Regions from separate parts of the Homo sapiens genome. Here region 2 is linked to region 1. The links come from fine-mapping of genetic effects on gene expression. A gene starts in region 1. The other region holds a variant in brackets. All regions are shown on one strand. Distances are from middle to middle.

Region 1 (10,441 bases):
AGCCACTAGCTCAACAGGACTGATCCCAGAGTTTGTTTCTCAAAATACATCAAGCGAGTGTTCCACTGAAAACAGAAGGCAAGCAAAGAGAAACAGCCACAAACATCAGGCACGAGTCTCAGATCCAGTCCCTTATAAAAGCTCACTTCCACCACTCAGCTCAACTCAGAGGTCACAGGATTTGCATCAGCAGAAGCTCCAGCGGAAAGAATGTGGATGCTGTGACATTCTGCTGAATGATCCCAAGTTCTTTTCTGAATCTGGAAGGAAAAGGAAAGAAGTGCCAAAAAGTTCACGCAAACAGTGCTGTGAGCTATTTAACAGATGCTTTTATTATCAAGAGCTGCAGAGGTGGGCCGGGACACCACCACGCTTCCACAGTGGGACCCTAGCCCAAACCAGCAGCCTGAGAGGCCGGGACACCATGCCTGAAACTCACTAGCAAGAACACTCTGAAAAAGCAAAAATGACAGCAGATTTACAAATCAACTAGCATATGTGGAAAGTGCATTTAAACTATCAAACCAGAACCCACCATATTAACTCAGGACTTCGGTCCTTTTTAATAATCAGTCATGTTCAAATACTGACTTCCTTTCAGTGTAGATAAGGTTATAAATCAACCTGAAAATGTACTACATATTGGAATTAAACCTCGTACCTGACAATCTGTGCTAAACACTAAACGAAATGTCAACACCCAAACAGGAAGTATGACAATGACTAGGAGAAAATCAGCCCACACCCAAAGATCCCGGGACACCTGAGGGTGTGACTGCTGCACTGCTGAGAGGCTCCAGCTTCAGCAGGTGTTGGAGCCAAGGGCGGCCCAGGCACCCACAACGTATCAGACACTTGATGTTATATTTTCACAGATTCCACATAGTAATCCGTCTTACAGGCAAAGACACTGAAGGCAGGAGCCAGTGGGAACCCACCCAGGACCCAAGAGCCCTGGTCTGGCGCACCACCTTCGCAAAGATGCTGTGACTCAGGAAGGCACGGCGCCAGCTGTGCCTGCACGGCCAGACAAGACATGGCTTGCATGGGGACATTAAAGAAATCACCTTGAGGAGATGGCAGCTTCCCTGCTTGAAGACAGCATAAGAACCTAAAATGTGTCAACAATTCCCTTATACAAAATGTCACTTTTGTAATTGGCTGAATGTACTAAAACTTTAAAAGTCGAGCAAGCTTTAATGACAAATCCAAGACCCAAAATTAGCCAGGTGTGGTGGCGGGCGCCTGTAGTCCCAGCTACTTGGGAGGCTGAGGCAGGAGAATGGTGTGAACCCGGGAGGCAGAGCTTGCAGTGAGCTGAGTTCGCGTTTGCAGTGAGCCGAGTTCGCGCCACTGCACTCCAGCCTGGGCGACAGAGCGAGACTCCATCTCAAAAAAAAAAAAATTCCAAGACCCATCTGCTGGCATCTCCTGGACGGCACAGAGGAGAGACACTGGGATGAAAGTCAAGTGGCATTTTTTTCACATTCAAACAGCACCTCTCATTAACATGTGGAACACAGCAGAGTCTGACCCTCTCAACGCACTCGAGGCGTGGAAGAAAAATGTCCTACGTGTGTACTCTAAGGCAGTGTGTGAAGTCCCCTGGAACTGAACTCAGAACGGAGACCTCAGAGTCTGGACTGTACGCCTGTCAGCACCCATGCCCCTCAGTCCTCCCTCTTCACACAGAGACCACCACTGAATCTGCCAGTAACAAAGGAGCTGGGTGGCAGGGAAGGTATTCTGGCAAAATCCTGAATGGTCAAACGGTAAATTACTTTATTTCAGAAAAAATGAAATGGCTTTGTAAACACTCAGGCTCACAAAAAAGAAAGTCTATTAGTTCTATATGTAGCAAAATCCCGAAATTCTGACACAGAGTAATGCAGCATGATTAGAATATTCTAAACGAAAATGTTAAATGAAAATCTTGATATTAAAAGGCAGTACAGGGTAGTGTTTAAGAGTGTGAACCCTGGAGCCTGGGTTCAAATCCATATTTCATAATTTACTGCTGTGTGGTTTAGGTAAGTTACTTAACCTCTCTGTTCCTTAGCTTCCTCATGAATGAACTAAGGATAATGTCAGTACCTGCCCAGTGGACTGTTGTGAAGATCACACAAAGAAAGTGAATACGACATGCTCGTAACAGTCCTGGAACAATCATTATTAAATATTATCGTCTGCTGGGGTAAGAGCTGTCATTAATAGATGGACACATGAAGAAAACAGGGTAAATTCTATGAGGGAGACTCAGTCACTCACTCACTCATTGCCACATTCTAAAAGACGACACTGTGGCAGGCACTGGGCTGGGCAGGGAGGAAGTGCCACCGACAAAGTTCCTGTCCTCAACAAGGGGAAGGTAACTGGCATTCCGGGGTGCGCACTAGGTGTCAGAGACTGTGGTAGAAAATGATTTCATGGCAGGGCGCGGTGGCTCGCACCTGGAATCCTAGCACTTTGGGAGGCTGAGGCAGGCGGATCCCTTGAGGTTAGGAGTTCGAGACCAGCCTGGCCAACATGGTAAAACCCCATCTCTACTAAAAATAAAAAAATTAGGCGGGCGTGGTGGCCGGCGCCTGTGGTCCCAGCTAGATGGGAGGCTAAGGCAGGAGAATGGCTTGAAGCCGGGAGACGGAGGTGGCAGTGAGTCAAGATCGCACCACTGCACTCCAGCCTGGGCAACAAAGCGAGACTCCATCTCAAAACATAAAACAAGAAAATGATCTCGTTTGCTTCTCTTATCAGCAAAGTGCTACATGTCCGGATGAAGGAGTTGAGGCTGACAGCCAGAAAAGAGGCCATGGGCACGAGTTAGGAAGGGCAGCAGGGACGGCCGTGGCTTCCCAGCATGTGGCCCCTGCACCAGTTCCGGGCTCCTCAACTCTCCGCTGTCCTCACCACACATCCAGCTGGTGGGAAGGCCGCACAGCACCCAGCCAGGCCCACAGCAGGCATTCGAGAAACGTCTATCCAACCAAACCGAATGGGACCCCTTCTCCAGGTGTTCCGGGCAGTCATCCCAAAGCTGCCGGAGCCAGGCTAGGCCAGGGCCTGTCCTAGAGGACGGTTCAGATAGAAACGCCCCTGGGAGGTGACCCTCACCCCAGGAGAGCCTGCAACACCCCGACACCCACTGCCTCGTCGCCGGTCCTCCCATGAAGCGGGGAGGCTGAGGTGCTGTGACGACCTAACAGTCTTGGTCTGGGCTTATAAACTTGGAAAGTCTAAAGACGTATTCTTCTGAGTACCAAAATATAACTGGCGAAAGAAGGAACCTCTTAAAATTACATTACCAAAGATAGGTTTTAGGTAGCAAGTTCTCAACCGTGTGTAGTCTGCTAAGATTTATAAATTAAAAACAAAAACAGAGCCCAGGGGAACGGACAAGGGCTCGCGGGCACCCTCCCCGGGACGACGTGCACACAGGCCTGCGGGACAAGAAGGCCAGGGTCGGAGTGGGACTGCGTCTCCCTGCCCTTCTTCCCGGCGGAACTCGCCCTCCTCACCTACAGGATCGCCCTAAATGCGCACGAAATCCTTCCCTGTTCCCGGTGAGGTGGTGAGAGAGGGCGAGGCCGCGAGCAGGTGCGCCCGTCCCCACTTCCTGCTCAGCGGGGCAGCAGGGGGGCTGGGGATCTCGGGGGGGCCGGGCCGGGGGTCCCGGGATCGCAGTTGCCGGGCGACCGCAGGGGGAAGGGTGCGGGGGCCGCGGGACCCAGGCCCAGGCCCCACGCCCGGCCGGAACTTTCCTCCCAAAGTTTCCCCGGGGCGCCAGGCTGCGGCCTAGGCCGGGCGCGCCTCCCAGTGGGGGTCGAGGCCGGGGCCGGGGCCGGGGCTGGAGGCGGCCTGCGGACCCGGGTCCTGCCCGGCCCGCCCTCCCCTCCCCGCCCCGGCTCCAGCCCCAGCCCGCGGCCCAGGCCCCGCAGCTCGCCGGGGTCCCGGGCCTTCGCGTGGCGGCGGCGGGGGCCACTCACCTGGACGCGGGTCCCTCGGTTGCCGGCCGAGCTCACTGCCGCCCCGCCCCCGCCCCGTAGGCCCGCGACCCACTGACACCGAGGCGGAAGTGCGGCCCGCCGCCTCGCCGACTGACAGCCCGCGCCCGCCACTCGCTGCGCCCGGCGCCGCCGCGTCGGCCGCTGCCTGCCCAATCAGCGCCCGGCCCGAGGCTCGCGCCGGGGGGTGGGACTATGCTAATCCCTTCGCGAAGGGCCTCTACCTGTGCCCCCTCAGAGCCCCGCCCACGCAGCGGAGTGACGGCAAGGACAGCCAGTCACAGCAGGAGAGAGGCGGGGTTATGCCGCCCCTGAGCCAAAAGGGGAGGGAGGCAAGGAGGAAAGGGCGTGGCTGCAGAGAGCAGAGTTGACAAACAGTGAGTCAGGTGGCCCGGGGCGTGGGTGCTCCGCCCTCAGGTGCACTGCGTCCTGGCGGCAGTGCGGGCCTGCGAGGCTACCCAAAGCCCTGGGGGCTTTTTCCTACAAATGCTGGGGACCGTGCGATAGCTGGGGCGTAGCTGCTTCCACTGTCCTACCAAATCCTGAATATCGTCCACCTCCTTTGCATGCCATTCACCGCCAACCAAAATCCAGCGCCAATTTACCCCTCCAGCTGCATCCCCGACCGTTTCACCACCATACTTAAAACCCTTTGGACTCCCACTGACCTACAGTGGCTCCAGGGTTAAGCCCAGAAGTTCTGGAATCAGACCTGGAGCTTGCATTCTTTACCAGCTGTGTGGATTTGGACAAATTAATTAACCTCTCTGAGTCTGTGATCACTCAGTTTCATCTGCAAACCAGGGTTCCCCTGTCAACATCTCATTGAAGTCATGGGTCTGGTTTGAGGTGAGTGGAGTGGCATAAACCAGGCTGGCTACATAGTCACAGCAGTTGGTTTAGGGGTCAGCCTGTGACCCAGTTCTAGCCAAAGAGGCTCAGTCCTGGGACTTTTGCTGTAGGGTCAGAGTTCAGACCGGAGGGGAGGCTGAAGTCAAATGACTCTCCCATCTGCCCACAGACCTCTCCAGAGCTGGGTTAGGTGAGAGAGGGAAGGGGCCAGTCTTCCACATCTCACTACCCGAGAACAGGGCTGCACGAGAATGAAGCCAGCCCAGAGGAAAGCCGGAGCAACCACGGCCGGGTCACGTGGACCCTGCTGCACCTCAGCAGGTCCTTTCCTTGACTTTTCAGTTACGTGAACCACATGCTTGTTTCTGCTTCAGCCCATTTGAGGTAAAGCCAAGAGTCCTGGGCTTCCTGTGGCCTTGAGAGCTCTGGCAGATGACCCGTGACCCCGCAGTGCGTCCTGCAGCAAAGCCAGCCCCCGTTGGGCCTCTGCACCCCCTCCTCAGGCCTTGTCTCCCCACTTCCAGGCTGCCCCTAGCAGGGCCATGGAGGCAGGGACAGGCCTTTGCCCCATCTGTGGCCCCGTGGCAGACGTGGGTACTCTCTATAAATTTCAGGGCATGAGTGAGCCAATGAACGTGGCCTCTGTGGCAGGGGTGGGGCCCAGGCCACATCTCTGGGCCCAGCAGGGCCGTTCTCCCCCACCCCAGGGGCTGGCCCCACTCACTGGTGGGCCACTGTCAGTCGGCGCCACTAGAGACGTGCCGGGACCAGGAAGGAGCTGGCTGAGCCTCTCCTGAAGAGAGAACGGGGAGGAGGGCGGGCAGGCCTCAGAAACAAAGGGGTTGCCATGGTTACCTCTGAAGAAAGCGACTCCAGCCGGTGAAAGGGAAGGGAAGGCGTGCGGCCCCCAAGCCAGGACAAGGACGATGAGGCCAGTTGCCACGGAGATGACTGCGCTCCACAGCTTTCCCTGTGGGCCTTGCCAGGGCCAGCTCAGGGTCCCAGAAACCCATCACTCTCCATGTCCCTCACCCTAAGTCTCTAAGACTCTAACCCCTGTGCCCTTGAGGGGATCCAACCTGCCCACCCACCCCTTGACCACGAGCTCTGCAGTGAGGGCAGCCTCAGAGGCTCAGGCAGAAGGACCCTCTCATCTGCCCAGGGACCACCCCAGGGCCAAGCAGGGAGATCCACCCTGGCCTTGGGGTTGGGGGTGTGATCTCAGATGGCCCCTGGGCTGGAGCAGGGGTTTCACCCCTCTCCACAAATGCAGTAACTGAGCTTCAAGGGTAGTCTGCCGTCAGCCAGCACTGCTGGAGACGTGCCAGGACTGGGAAGGGTACTTCCTCCCCGGGGCCAGTTGCTGGGACTAGGCGAGAATCCTCCCTCAGTTGGTGGGTAGTAAGGAGGGTGCCTTGAGACCAACTTAGGCGTCTTTGTTATGATCTTTACTAGGTCACGAGGCCAATTCAAGAGGCACAGTTCTCCAAGGATGGAAGATGGGGGTGGAGAAGGCAACAAAGATGGATGAGCTGGGGCCATGATGATGAGGATGATGATGTTGATGATGATGATGGTGATGGCGGCCGAGTGCCCTGTGATTTACAGGCCCATCTGGTTTCATGTTTGCAACAGCCAATCAAGTGGGTACCAGGTGCCATCATTCCCACTTTACAGATGAGAAGACTGAGCCCCAGACAGGTTAAGTGACTCCCCCAGCCCTGCAATGAGGAAGGGCCCAGCACAGCTCCAGGCACAACAAGCAGGCACTCCAAGCATAGGGAGGTCTGGTGGACCAGGCCTGGCCCAGGAGCTTGTCGGCAAGGCAGAGCCGCATCCAGGCTCCCGGACCAGGATCCGCACACGAACAACAGGCCCAGGAGTTCCCATGGCTGTGGCTGCTGGACCCCCGCACCAGGTGGGCTGGCGGCTGTGTCCCACACATGCTCTCTAGAGCCTGAGAAATGCTCATCCTGCAGGTGATTTGGGGGGTGTCTGCTCCCACCTTCACTGCTCTCAGACCAAATTTCTGCTTCCTGACAGAATTTGTAGGATCCTCCCTCTGTCCTCTTAGCCAAGGAGGGGAGAAGCTCTCTCCCTCCCTCACCATGGGGGAGGTCACCAGTGGGTGGATTTCATGACCCACATACCTCCCAGGGCTGGCATGCGGGGTCCAGCAGTCCCAGCCACAACTATGTCATCCCGCTTCCTTTCCTCTCACGGTGAAGGAGGCGGAAGAGAGGTTGTTGCTCCCACCTTTTGGATGGGGAAACTGAGGCTTAGAGAGCAGAAGCAGCTTGCCCAGGGCCTGGCAGCACCAGTCCCGCCTACGACCCACCGCCCTTTCCCCCGCTCCACTCTTACCTCCTCCCCCAGGTTTCTGGGTCTGGGTTTATCTCTTTATCTGGGTCTGCACCCACAGCTGCCCCATTAGATCAAACAGGGCTTGGCTTCCAGGAACGCCGGGTGCCTTGGCATTGCTGGCCTGGCTGGCAGCTGCTGGCTGGTGAGCCCCAGCTGAGGCTGTCTCCTCTCCCCAGGCACTCCCCAGGCCTTTAGAGAGGACATTCTCCCACTCTCTTTTATGGAAAGCCATGGAATCTTCTGTGTGGATGCAGCCTGGGCAGTCAGAGAGGGGCCTGGCCCTCACGTGGCCGCAGCTGACCCCTCCCCGCCGCAGCTCTCCAGTCTCCTCTGCGACGTGACAGCCCTGGCTTCTCTGCTGTGGGGAGGAGAGTATTTTTAGTTTTGAACCCACCACGTGAAGCGAGACAAGTTATCAATAGCAGCAGCAAAGGGCTTTTTCTTTCTCTCTCTCTTTTTTTTTTTTCCCATGTCTTTGGGACCTGAACAATCTGCACCCATTAAATTCTGCCAAAAGAAAAAATAGTGTTCCTCTTATAAACTTTTTACCCCACAGCTTCCTTGCTGCTGCAGCTTTGCAAACCCACTCTTCCTGGGATGATCCCCCTGGTCTCCACAGCCCCCCTCTCCACTCCTGGGCACTGAGACCTGCCTGGGAACAGGCCCTTCTGAGCAGAGGGCCAGGGTGGGGCTCAGGCCACAGCTCCAGAGCAGTTGGAATGAGGGGCTGGGGAGAGGGGAGAAAGGCCCCCCAGTTTCCCGCTCACAGAGCTGGCAGCAGCCACAGCCTCTCCTGGAGTGCTTGCTGCCTGCCCGGGGCCAGGCCCAGCTCCTCTGAGTGCAGTAGCTCAGGGACACGCCCCACCCCGCAGTGAAGGGCAGAGAAGGTGGCCTTCCCAGAGGCCTTTCCGGCTGTAATTCCTTGTTTCTGGAGGAAGGGGTTCCTCAGTCAAGTAGGCTTGAGAACACTATTTAAACAAAGTCAACAGGTGCCCTCCCCAGCCTTAGGCTTCCCAGAGCCCTTCCCACTCAGGTGCACATGGAGGCTCCAGGGCCCAGGAAGGGCCTGATGCAGACCCCCAACATATGGGGATGGAAGCCTTTTTTCTATGAAGTTTCTTGCAGGACACTGGAGTGGCTTCCTGCCTTGCTGGGGGAAGCATTTGAGCCAACATGGCTGCCTGCCCTTTAGAACTGGTTAGAGCTGCGTTCCTGAGAAAGCTCAGAGTAACAGAGGCTTCGACAGAGTAGAAACGTACTTTTCTCTCGGTGACACAAGCCTGCGCTGTCCAGCTGGCAGGGTACCATGCATCCTCAGGGACACAGCTCCTATCTTACACTATCCTCTCCTAGTGGCATCCTCAGGGACGCAGCTCCTACCTTACTGTATCACTCTCCTAGTGCTGGCTTCCAGCCTCAGTGTCACCTCATGGCCCAAAACAGCTGCTGATGCTCCAGCCATCACAAGCATACCTGACCAGAAAGGAGGAAGGAAAAGAGGAAGAGCAAAAGTGCTGCCCCCTAGATGAGTCAGCTCCCTTTGAGGATCTGTCCCTGAAGACACACCCAGCACTTCTGCTCACATCTCACTGGCCAGAACTCCATCCTATGCCACTTTTGGTAGGATAACGGCATTTTAGCTGAGTGCACTTCCAGCCTAAACAAAACATGGGGCTACGGGGAGCAGATTACAGATGGCCCCAAAGCCAGGCCTAGACAGTCCCAGACCCAGAAATGTGGACATCTCCAGAAGCGACCCATGAGTGCCCTGCCTCAGAAGAACCGACAGCCCCAGATGCAAGACAGAGCGCCTGGCACACATTCCCTGGCACGCCTGTGGCACAAGGGCTGTACTCCAACTCCGTGCCCCAGCGTGGTGCTGCAGCGGCCACTTCAGCGTTGGCCCTGGAGTTTCCCTCTTCCTGGCTGCACCCTGACTGATGGGAAGTGGGTTCCTGCTCCTTCTTGAAATACCTGTTGAAAACCTGCTGCACTCTGCTGGCCCCACCCTGGGTGCCGGGGTACCTCCAGAAGCAGGGCACCCACCCCAGAGGCTGCTAGGCAAAGGGCTTTCCTAGTGTGGGAAAGTGGGGGACCCTGGGGGACCTCTGCACCCTTCCTGAGGGCCCATGTAGGGTTGGCAGGGTGTGGGCACATCCCTGCAGGGAACGGGAGGGGCAGGTGGGAGCCGGAGGAGAGACAGCTGGGCTGGGTTAGATTTAACTTGCTGCGGGAGCCAAGTGCGTTGGCTGGAGCCACTGGCTGGGCCTCAGTGCCAGGGGATCCGCCAGGCACGGGGGTGGGAGGGGCAAAGTTTAAATATGCCTGAGGAGCCAAGATGGGGGGCAGAGATGGGGCCCAGGTTGAGGAGCCACCGGGGGCCTGAGGGTGGCGCCATGGGTTTCTCCTCAGGAGCAGCCCAGCAGCACGCTTGCCCCTCAGCTGGAGCTGGGGATGGGGGTTGGGTAAGAGACAGCCAGCCAGAGATTTGGGGTTCTTCTGGGGATGGGTGTGCTCCCCCAGTTGCATCCCTGGGAGAGGAGGTCAGGGAGGGGGTGGAGGGGATGGCTAGGGGTCTGTGTGTCAGGGGTCACAGCAGGGCACTGCATACCCAGCCCAGTCCTCGTGGTCACGGTAGAGAGGGGTGACCCATGAGGCAGAGCTGTACCCACCAGGAGCTTCATGCATGGCTCACAGCACCCAACCTGTGCTGTCACATGGCACCTGAGGTTAATTTACCAATCTACCATTGCCGTCTTGAAATTCTTCATCATCTTGGGGCAAGGAGCTCACATTTTCACTGTGCGGAGGACCTGGTAAATCCTGCAGCCATCCTGGGCGAGGAGGGTGCGGCACTGGAAGCAGGGCCCACGGGGTTTCAGCAGTTGCACACAGCCGGCTGGGTGATGCCATCCCTGCCAGGCATGGTGACAGGCTGGGCAAGCAGGCTGGGCCTGTTCTGGGGAAGAGATGGAGGGGCTGATAAGAGGCCCTGTGCTGGGCTTCTGTGCCTGGTGCCAGCCTGCACAAGCTGGGGGAAGGCAGTCTGCCCAGGGGTCCCATGTCCCAGGGCTGGGAGATCCCTGGGGCCAGGGAGGACCATGCTGGCCGGTGCTCCCACTCGCTGGCTGGCTTCAGGAAATAGGGGTTCAGTAATGCCCAGGGCATCTGCAGGAGGTGGGTGTGGGTCGGTCTGGGCAGATGGCTGGGAGTTGGGTGGAATC
Region 2 (8,000 bases), 38 kb before region 1:
CTCACAGGACGCTGGGAAGCAGGGGCCCTCCATGCCACAACATGTGGCGGAAACACCCAACACCACCTCTCCGACATTGCACTTGGCCTAACGTTGGCAACAGACACACACACAAACATGACATCGCACTTGGCCTAACGTTGGCAACAGACACACACACACAAACATGACATTGCACTTGGCCTAACGTTGGCAACAAACACACACACAAACATGACATCGCACTCGGCCTAACGGCAACAGACACACACACAAACACGATATCGCACTCGGCCTAACGTTGGCAACACACACACAAACATGACATCGCACTCGGCCTAACGTTGGCAACACACACACAAACATGACATCGCACTTGGCCTAATGTTGGCAACAGACACACACACACAAACATGACATTGCACTTGGCCTAACGTTGGCAACACACACACAAACATGACATCGCACTTGGCCTAACATTGGCAACAGACACACACACAAACATGACATCGCACTCGGCCTAACGTTGGCAACAGACACACACACAAACATGACATCGCACTCGGCCTAACGTTGGCAACACACACATAAACATGACATCGCACTTGGCCTAATGTTGGCAACAGACACACACACAAACATGACATCACACTTGGCCTAACGTTGGCAACACACACACAAACATGACATCGCACTTGGCCTAATGTTGGCAACAGACATACACACAAACACGACATCGCACTTGGCCTAATGTTGGCAACAGACACACACACAAACACGACATCGCACTTGGCCTAACGCTGGCAACAGACACACACACAAACATGACATCGCACTCGGCCTAACGTTGGCAACAGACACACACACAAACATGACATCGCACTTGGCCTAACGCTGGCAACAGACACACACACACATGGCTTCCAGAGCACATCTGACCCACCCAGAGAGCGCAATGGTGCAGGAGAGGCCTCCACCCTGATGCCCCGCTTGCTCTCCACCTGAGCCACAGCAGTGTCTGGCTAGAGGTACCCAGAGACGCAGGTGGAGAAGCAATCCTTACACACCTCTGACTCCAAACCCTCAACCCCGAGGGACTCCCATTGCCCAGGAACTCAGGACCCTAAACCCTTTCTGAAGGGGGTGCCCCTTCCTTGTCTTTCTACAAGGCCCCTGAAATTTCCGAGATGGAATGGCTTATACCCCAAAATACTCCTGTCCAGGAACAGGATTTTTAGTGTACTCTCTTTTTCAATCAAAATGTCAGCTTTTAATTGTTCCGGAACTGTGAATACACCTACAGTTGTAGTCATTAAAAATTAGAAAAGCTAAACCACATAATTACCAACTTAACTGGAATCAGAATTTCCAATCATTACAGAAGAAAGAAAGTTGAAAAATTAGATTTTAAAAGGTTGACTACCAAGGTATGTAATTTACAAAATGAATACTTGTCTGAGAAAAGAATGTGTATTTTTAGCTATAACAAGGGATCTGTAGGGATCCAGGGTATCAGGAAAGGACTTGGTCCACGTCCATGGCCCCTAACCTGACAGACTGCCAGGGTCTCACAGACACACAGCACATGGCAGACACTGGCAAGGACGATCTGGAAGTGAACTCATGACAGACGACGTGTCTCGGCGTTGCGAAGGTGCATAGCTTGCTTCTGGCTGTGCAGCAGGAGCTCCGGCCCCGGGTGCAGCCCCTGGGGAAGGGTGCTGGCGGCACGCCCCGCTCTACCCAGCCCAGGCGGCTTGCATTCCTTTCACCCACAAGGCTTCTTCTCTATCATCTAGAACTTCTTTCCTCTTCTGATTTATCTTTTTCTTTTTCTTTTTTTGAGATGGAATCTCAAAATCTCTGTCGCCCAGGCTGGAGTGCAGTGGCGTGATCTCGGCTCACTGCAACCTCCGCCTCCAGGTTCAAGTGATTCTCCAGCCTCAGCCTCCCGAGTAGCTGGGATTACAGGCACCCGCCACCACGCCCGGCTAATTTTTTGTATTTTTTAGCAGAAACGAGGTTTCACCATGTCGGCCAGGCTAGTCTCGAACTCCTGACCTCAGGCAATCTGCCTACCTCAACCTCTCAAAGTGCTGGGATTACAGGCGTGAGCCACCACGCCCGGCCTGATTTATCTTTTTCAAGACATTTTAATAATTTTTTAAGAGCCAATCCCGTCAATGCCTCTGACAGTGGCACAGCACGCTGACCAGAGGACGAGAAGGCTGGCAGGCAGCAACAGGAATACTGCTCAAGAGAAATATCTAGAAAAGGAAGCACACTCTACATGAATTCAGAACAGAAGACTCCCTCACAAGTGGTTCTCGTGGCCAGTCTTTCCCTTGTCCAGGCCTCAGCCTCCCCTTTCCCAGAAGCAGAAGCAGGGCTGCTCCCTGCAGCTTGTGCCAAGACCGACAGTTGCCTGCTGGACCCTGCTGTCACCACGCCACACTCTGTCCAAACTAGTCCTACTTGCTCAAAGGCAATGACATCTTGAGAACAGGTGCTCGGCTGCCCAGTGCCAGCCAACTTCTAAATCAGACAAAAAACACAAAGTTGGCATTCACGCACGGGCAGCATGTGGGTAAGGACCAGCAGCTGACCCAGCCAGGATGAGCCAGGAACAGATTAGAATTTGAAGCTGTGACATTTATGTTGCTTCTCCAAACTGCATAGTGATTTATATACAGAAGTGCAGGAAAGCTTGTACTACTAACAACGCATCCTCCCAAAATGGTCTGACAGGCAGTGCTGACACACCTTCTAGGACAAACATGGGCACGCACTTTTAAACTCTTTACACACTGGAAAAGAGTCCATCTGAAGCAAACCAAATCCCACAACCATTTGCTCACTATTGATAAAAATCTCAATCATGGCCAGGCGTGGTGGCTCACGCCTGTAATCCCAGCACTTTGGGAGGCCAAGGTGGGCAGATCACCTGAGGTTGGGAGTTCGACACCAGCCTGGCCAACAAGGTGAAACCCTGTCTCTACTGAAAACACGAAAATTAGCCGGGCCTGGTGGCGTGCACCTGTAATCCCAACTACTCAGGAAGCTGAGGCGGAGAATCAGGAGAATTGCTTGAACCAGCAGGCGGAGGTTGCAGCGAGTGGAGATCATGCCACTGCCCTCCAGCCTGGGCAACCAATGGAGATTCCGTCTCAAAAAAAAAAAAAAA[T/AT]TCTCAATCATTAATAACACATAAAATACAATAAAGGGCCCCAAAACAGCGGCCTTAAGTTTCAAAGGAACTGCACTTCTTGGAACCCAAGATGCCATTCATTGCACTGCACACCATTATTTTATGAAAGAAAGAAAAAAATGCTGCAAATGAAACTATGACTTGGACTGGGCACAGAGGCTCACACCTGTAATCCTAGCACTTTGGGAGGCTGAGGGAGGCAGATCACTTGAGCTCAGGAGTTCAAGAGCAGCCTGGGCAACACAGCAAAACCCTGTCTCTACTGAAAATACAAAAATTAGCTGGGCATGGTGGCGCACGCCTGTAGTTCCAGCTACTTGGGAGGCTGAGGTGGGAAGATAACTTGAGCCCAGGAGGTCGAGGCTACAGTGAGCTGTGATCATATCCAGGAGGTTAAGGCAGGAGGTCGAGGCTACAGTGAGCCGTGATCATGTCACTGAACTTCAGCCTGGGCGACAGAGTGAGACCTCGTCTCAAAAAAAAAAAAAGGAACAAGAAACTGACATGTAGAAGTGCTGCCACGTGAACAAGGCGTCTTAGAATCGATGAAACACTCTAATTTAGAAAAAGTTTTTAATGTCACAGGAAAATTATGACATGTTAAAAAGGGATACAAATTAAATTATCATATTTTGAAACACACACAAAAGAAAGTCTAACAAAATGCTGACAGTTCCTCTCATTTTTTTTAAAGAGACACGGTCTGGCTCTGTAGTCCAGGTTAGAGTTCAGTGGCACGGTCACTGTAACTGAACTCCTGGGCTCAAGTGATGCTCCTGCCTCGCCTCCTGAGTTGCAGGTATTCCAGGCGTGAGCCCAGCCAGCTATTGTCTTGTATGGGATTATGCCTGATTCATCTTTTCTACCTTTCTCAATGTTACACATTTTCTATAAAGAGCACTCTCTCGTAATTAAAAAAACAAACAGACTTCATAATAAAATAACCCAACAGAATCTCAACTAACCCAGAATCCAAATAAGAGGCTAATTGTTTTGGCTCAACTCCCTTTTTCACAGAAAAATAATAAAACAAGATGATAAAGGAGCCCGCCTTCCCTCCCGTCTGCACTCTGTTCCTGGGCAGGGAGGCGTGCAGCCCAGCAGCCTGTGGCAAACAGCTTGCATTCTGCACAGCAGACTTGTCTAGATAACCACCCACGCCCCTCCAGCTCCTTCTCCCCAGGCAGGCGGAGCGAGCTCTGTGTGCTGGGCTCCACTGACAGTCAGAAGAGTGAAGGGTGTCCCACCAGCAAGCTCCTTCTTCCCAGAGTGAGCTCTGTGTGCTGGGCTACCTCGACAGTCGGAAGACTGAAGGGTGCAGCGAGAGTGCCCTGCCCCTCCCTCCTTCAGAACCACAGCTTAGCCCTGTCACAGAGACAGCAGCTGAACTGTGCTCTGCTGACTCTCCCTACACATCTGCCCATGGGCACCTGCATGCATCTACAAGAGAATGACGGGGTCCACGGGCAGTGGAATAAAAATCATTTTAGACATCACCAAACGGCCCTGAAGGAAGCCACCCACATCCCTCTCATCCACAGCTCCCCGGAGCCCCAGCCAGGCTGCTCAATGGCTGAGGAATTACCACACTGCCACATACATGCCATGGTCTGGCCTGCTTTTGACTTCATTTGTTGGTGTGGGTGGGCACTGTCACCTGGGCAGAATCCCAGGATGATTCTGTGAATAACCACAGCAGTCCCCAGGGCAACCAGGTGGGTGAAGAGAACCCCAACCAGTCCTTCCAGAGGCCCAGCCACAAACAACGGATCTGGGGCCCGGCTGGACCTCTGGGGTCAGAGTTCTAGGACTTGGAGTCAGTCTCACGTCTGTGAGGTGAGGGCCACCAGAGACAGGAGGGAAGCTGGGGAGACTCTAGGAAGGGATGGCAACGCTGCCTAGAAGAAAGTTCCATAGGAAGAAGTTTCAGGGATGTCTGGAGATGAGGCGTGGTCTGGTTAACTCTCCCTTGGCCAGAGCCGTCTGACCCTTCCTAAAACTCTGGGGAGGCTGTGGTGGCAAACGTGGCCTTGGGAGTGAAGCTCCTCTTTGCAATCATTCCTGTGTTTGGATTTACCTGCTTTTTCAATAGCGTTCACTAAATGCTTTAGTGAAACAGCCTAGTTTTGCTCATTAGTACCTATTTCCATTTTCGGTGAAGCTCACAACAATCCTACACATTTCACAGACGTCGCACACACACACGGAAGCGTCTACAGTGCGCGCTATCTCCACGCTTGAGTCGAACACACTAAAATATCTCATTGCCAGCGCTTTACACTCACTCAGACGCCGTGGCACGCTAGCACAACACCCCGTGTGTGTGAAACATCTCGCCTACAGCATCCAAACGCTTTCGTGAGCTCTTAATTCAAACAGTTTATTCTCAGAGCAGAGGAATCAATGCTAGTGAAAGAATCAAACTTATCTGTCATCCAAGGAATTCCATTTACAAGATATTTATGATGGGCCTTTCCCCCCTTACCTGATTAATTCATACGTTTCTCCCAAGAGTGGATTAAATGGTTTGCCGGTCCTCTCCCACTGGGAAGCCACAGCCGAAACAGCAAAAGCAGCCACAGACTGTAAATAATCCACGGGGGGGACAGGCACAGCTTCAGTTAGGAAACGCGCTGGAGAAGATGGCCTCTTGTGGAGGGCGGTGGGCACCTGGTTTCTGTCACTATTTGTTCCGTGTGCGTTTTCAGTTTTCCCCGAGCAGTGTGTCTGAGATTATAGGACTTCCAGGGAATGCCCTTCATCACCCGCCACTCCCCCGACAGCACAGAAAGAAGGAACTGGGTGCTGCCTTCCACCCCCGGAGCCAGGCCCTTCTGGCAGATGCTGCAGCAATGTCAGCCACTCCGTCTGATATGCACACACAAGGCCACACACTCAACACACACACCCCAAGCACTCATTCACAGAGGCATGCGCACACACGTGCACACGTTATGTGCACCCACAGTCACACACTTGTATTTTGTTATTTTTTAGACACAGGGTCTCACTCTGTCACCCAGGCTGGAGTGCAGTGGCGTAATCGTGGCTCACTGTAGCCTCTAGCTCCTGGGCACAAGCGATCCTCTCTCATCAGCCTCCCAAGTAGCTGGCATTGCAGGCATGCAACACTGCACCTGGCTAAGTTTTAAAAAATTTTTGTAGAGATGCGGTCTCACTGTGTTGCCTCAGCTGGTCTCAACCTCCAGGAGCAATTCATCCACCTCAGCCTCCCGAAGTGTTGGGATTACAGGCATGAGCCACCGTGCGTGCCCAGCCCACAGTCACACACATGCACACACATGGGGTGCGGTGGTGCAACAGGACCCAAGAGAAGCCCAAGGGCAGAGCCCACCGCCACCTTCAGCTCCAAGAGGCGGAGTCTCCCGGCAGGAGGCGGCAGCAGGGAGCTCTTGGGGCCACTGAGAGCTCAATGGCATTTCCGGCAAGTTCTGTCATCACACACCTGTGGTGACAGGACAAATGCCACGACCGCCAGGCAGGATGGCACTGAACACTGGGGGGAGCTGTGCGAGTCCTCACAGATGCCTGGGGCCCCAAGACTGTGTGGCCAGACATGCAAGGGGCATCACTTTCATGACAAACTCCTGCCTGGCACCCCTAAGGCCCACCTGCATCCTCTCCAGGGGCTGGGGCTGGCAGGAGGCCCTGTGGATGAGGTACACGTGCTCCATGTACTCCGTGATCCGCTGCAAGAAGCTCAGAGGCTCGTTGAAGGCGATTGGCATCGTGATCTTGGACAGCTCCTGGAAAGATGGGGAAGACTCGCTGGTTACTGCTGCCTTCCTGACACCGCTGGGCTGCCCGATGCCCCTGCTCTGAGCATCCCTTCATGGAGCCGCAGCCTCTGGGGTTGAACCGGATCTTCAAACCCCCCATGGGTGAGCCACTCCCTGCCCCATCGGCCCTGCCCTGTGAGCCTCAGCTGCCATCAGACCTGACACACAATCTGTGCTGAGCCTGCAGAGGTCTCTGGCATGACACCCCTGAATCCTCTCTGCCTCCCCAGCCCACCGCCCCATTCCAGACACAGAGACTGCCACAAGGGCTCTTGGGCCCACCTGCGCCCCCTCCCCTACTCCACATCTTCTCCACCCCACTTCCAGAGTAGTGGTCCCAGGCTGGGCACGGTGGCTCACACCTAAAATCCAAGCACCCTGGGAGGCCGAGGCGGGTGGATCCCTTGAGGTCAGGAGTTCAAGACCAGTCTGGCCAACACAGCGAAACCCTGTCTATACTAAAAATTCAAAAATTAGCTGTGCATGGTGGCGCACACCTGTAATCCCAGCTACTCGGGAGGCTGAGGCAGGAGAATCGCTTGAACCCAGGAGGTGAAGGTTGCGGTGAGCCGATATTATGCTATTGCCCTCCAGCCTGGGAGACAGAGCCAGACTCCGTCTCAAAAACAAAAAAACAGAGTAGTGGTCCCAGGCAGAGCCACCCACGCCGTTAAAAATAGTCCCTGGCTTCCCGTCCCTCCAGGATGCCTCGGACACACCTGAACCTGGCAAATGAGGCCTCCCATAACATGGCTCCATGTGGCTTTCCCCTAAGGCCTTCCGAGTTGGCAAAGGAGTCTCAGGTGTCTGCTCCCAGGCCCTGGACGGCAGGGCGCATGGCTTAGTGGGGGAAGCTGGGAAGGTGCCAAGGGGACGAGTGCCCACAGGGGCCACTCTTCCCACCGGGCTTCCAGGAAAGGGATCCCAAGGGCAGTAGGCATTCCAGGGAAACACAGCTGTCACCTCAGGGCAGGCTCTTCAGGAAGGAGCAGGGTCTGGGGTGGGCAAAGCAGAGG

Which allele goes with the higher level. Alleles are on the strand shown, and positions count from the first base shown. SD is a standard deviation of normalised expression in the study named.
As copies of AT replace T in region 2, the expression in monocytes of the gene that starts at base 4,060 in region 1 goes up (small effect, 0.40 SD a copy in Fairfax 2014).

What was found. PIP is the estimated chance that this variant, and not a neighbour inherited with it, causes the effect. A credible set is the group of variants that fine-mapping cannot tell apart.
Region 2: its variant is the best candidate, but not a certain one, in a credible set for the expression of OSBPL2 in monocytes (Fairfax 2014, PIP 0.83).

What each region holds. Positions count from the first base shown.
Region 1 is chr20:62,232,140-62,242,580 of GRCh38, reverse strand. OSBPL2 (oxysterol binding protein like 2) reads right to left here and starts at 4,060. Exons shown (of 14, transcript NM_144498.4): 1 at 3,984-4,060. It overlaps LOC105369209 (a long non-coding RNA gene), which reads right to left. Exons shown (of 4, transcript NR_160555.1): 2 at 8,598-10,176; 3 at 7,218-7,575; 4 at 6,280-7,109. RefSeq lists an enhancer at 2,311-3,235 and a silencer at 3,933-4,332.
Region 2 is chr20:62,271,076-62,279,075 of GRCh38, reverse strand. OSBPL2 (oxysterol binding protein like 2) reads right to left here. Exons shown (of 14, transcript NM_144498.4): 5 at 6,817-6,951; 6 at 5,670-5,767. Among named protein-coding and RNA genes, the nearest start is that of ADRM1, 28 kb to the left of the region's middle. RefSeq lists an enhancer at 1-143. The variant T/AT (reference allele first, on the strand shown) is at 3,164.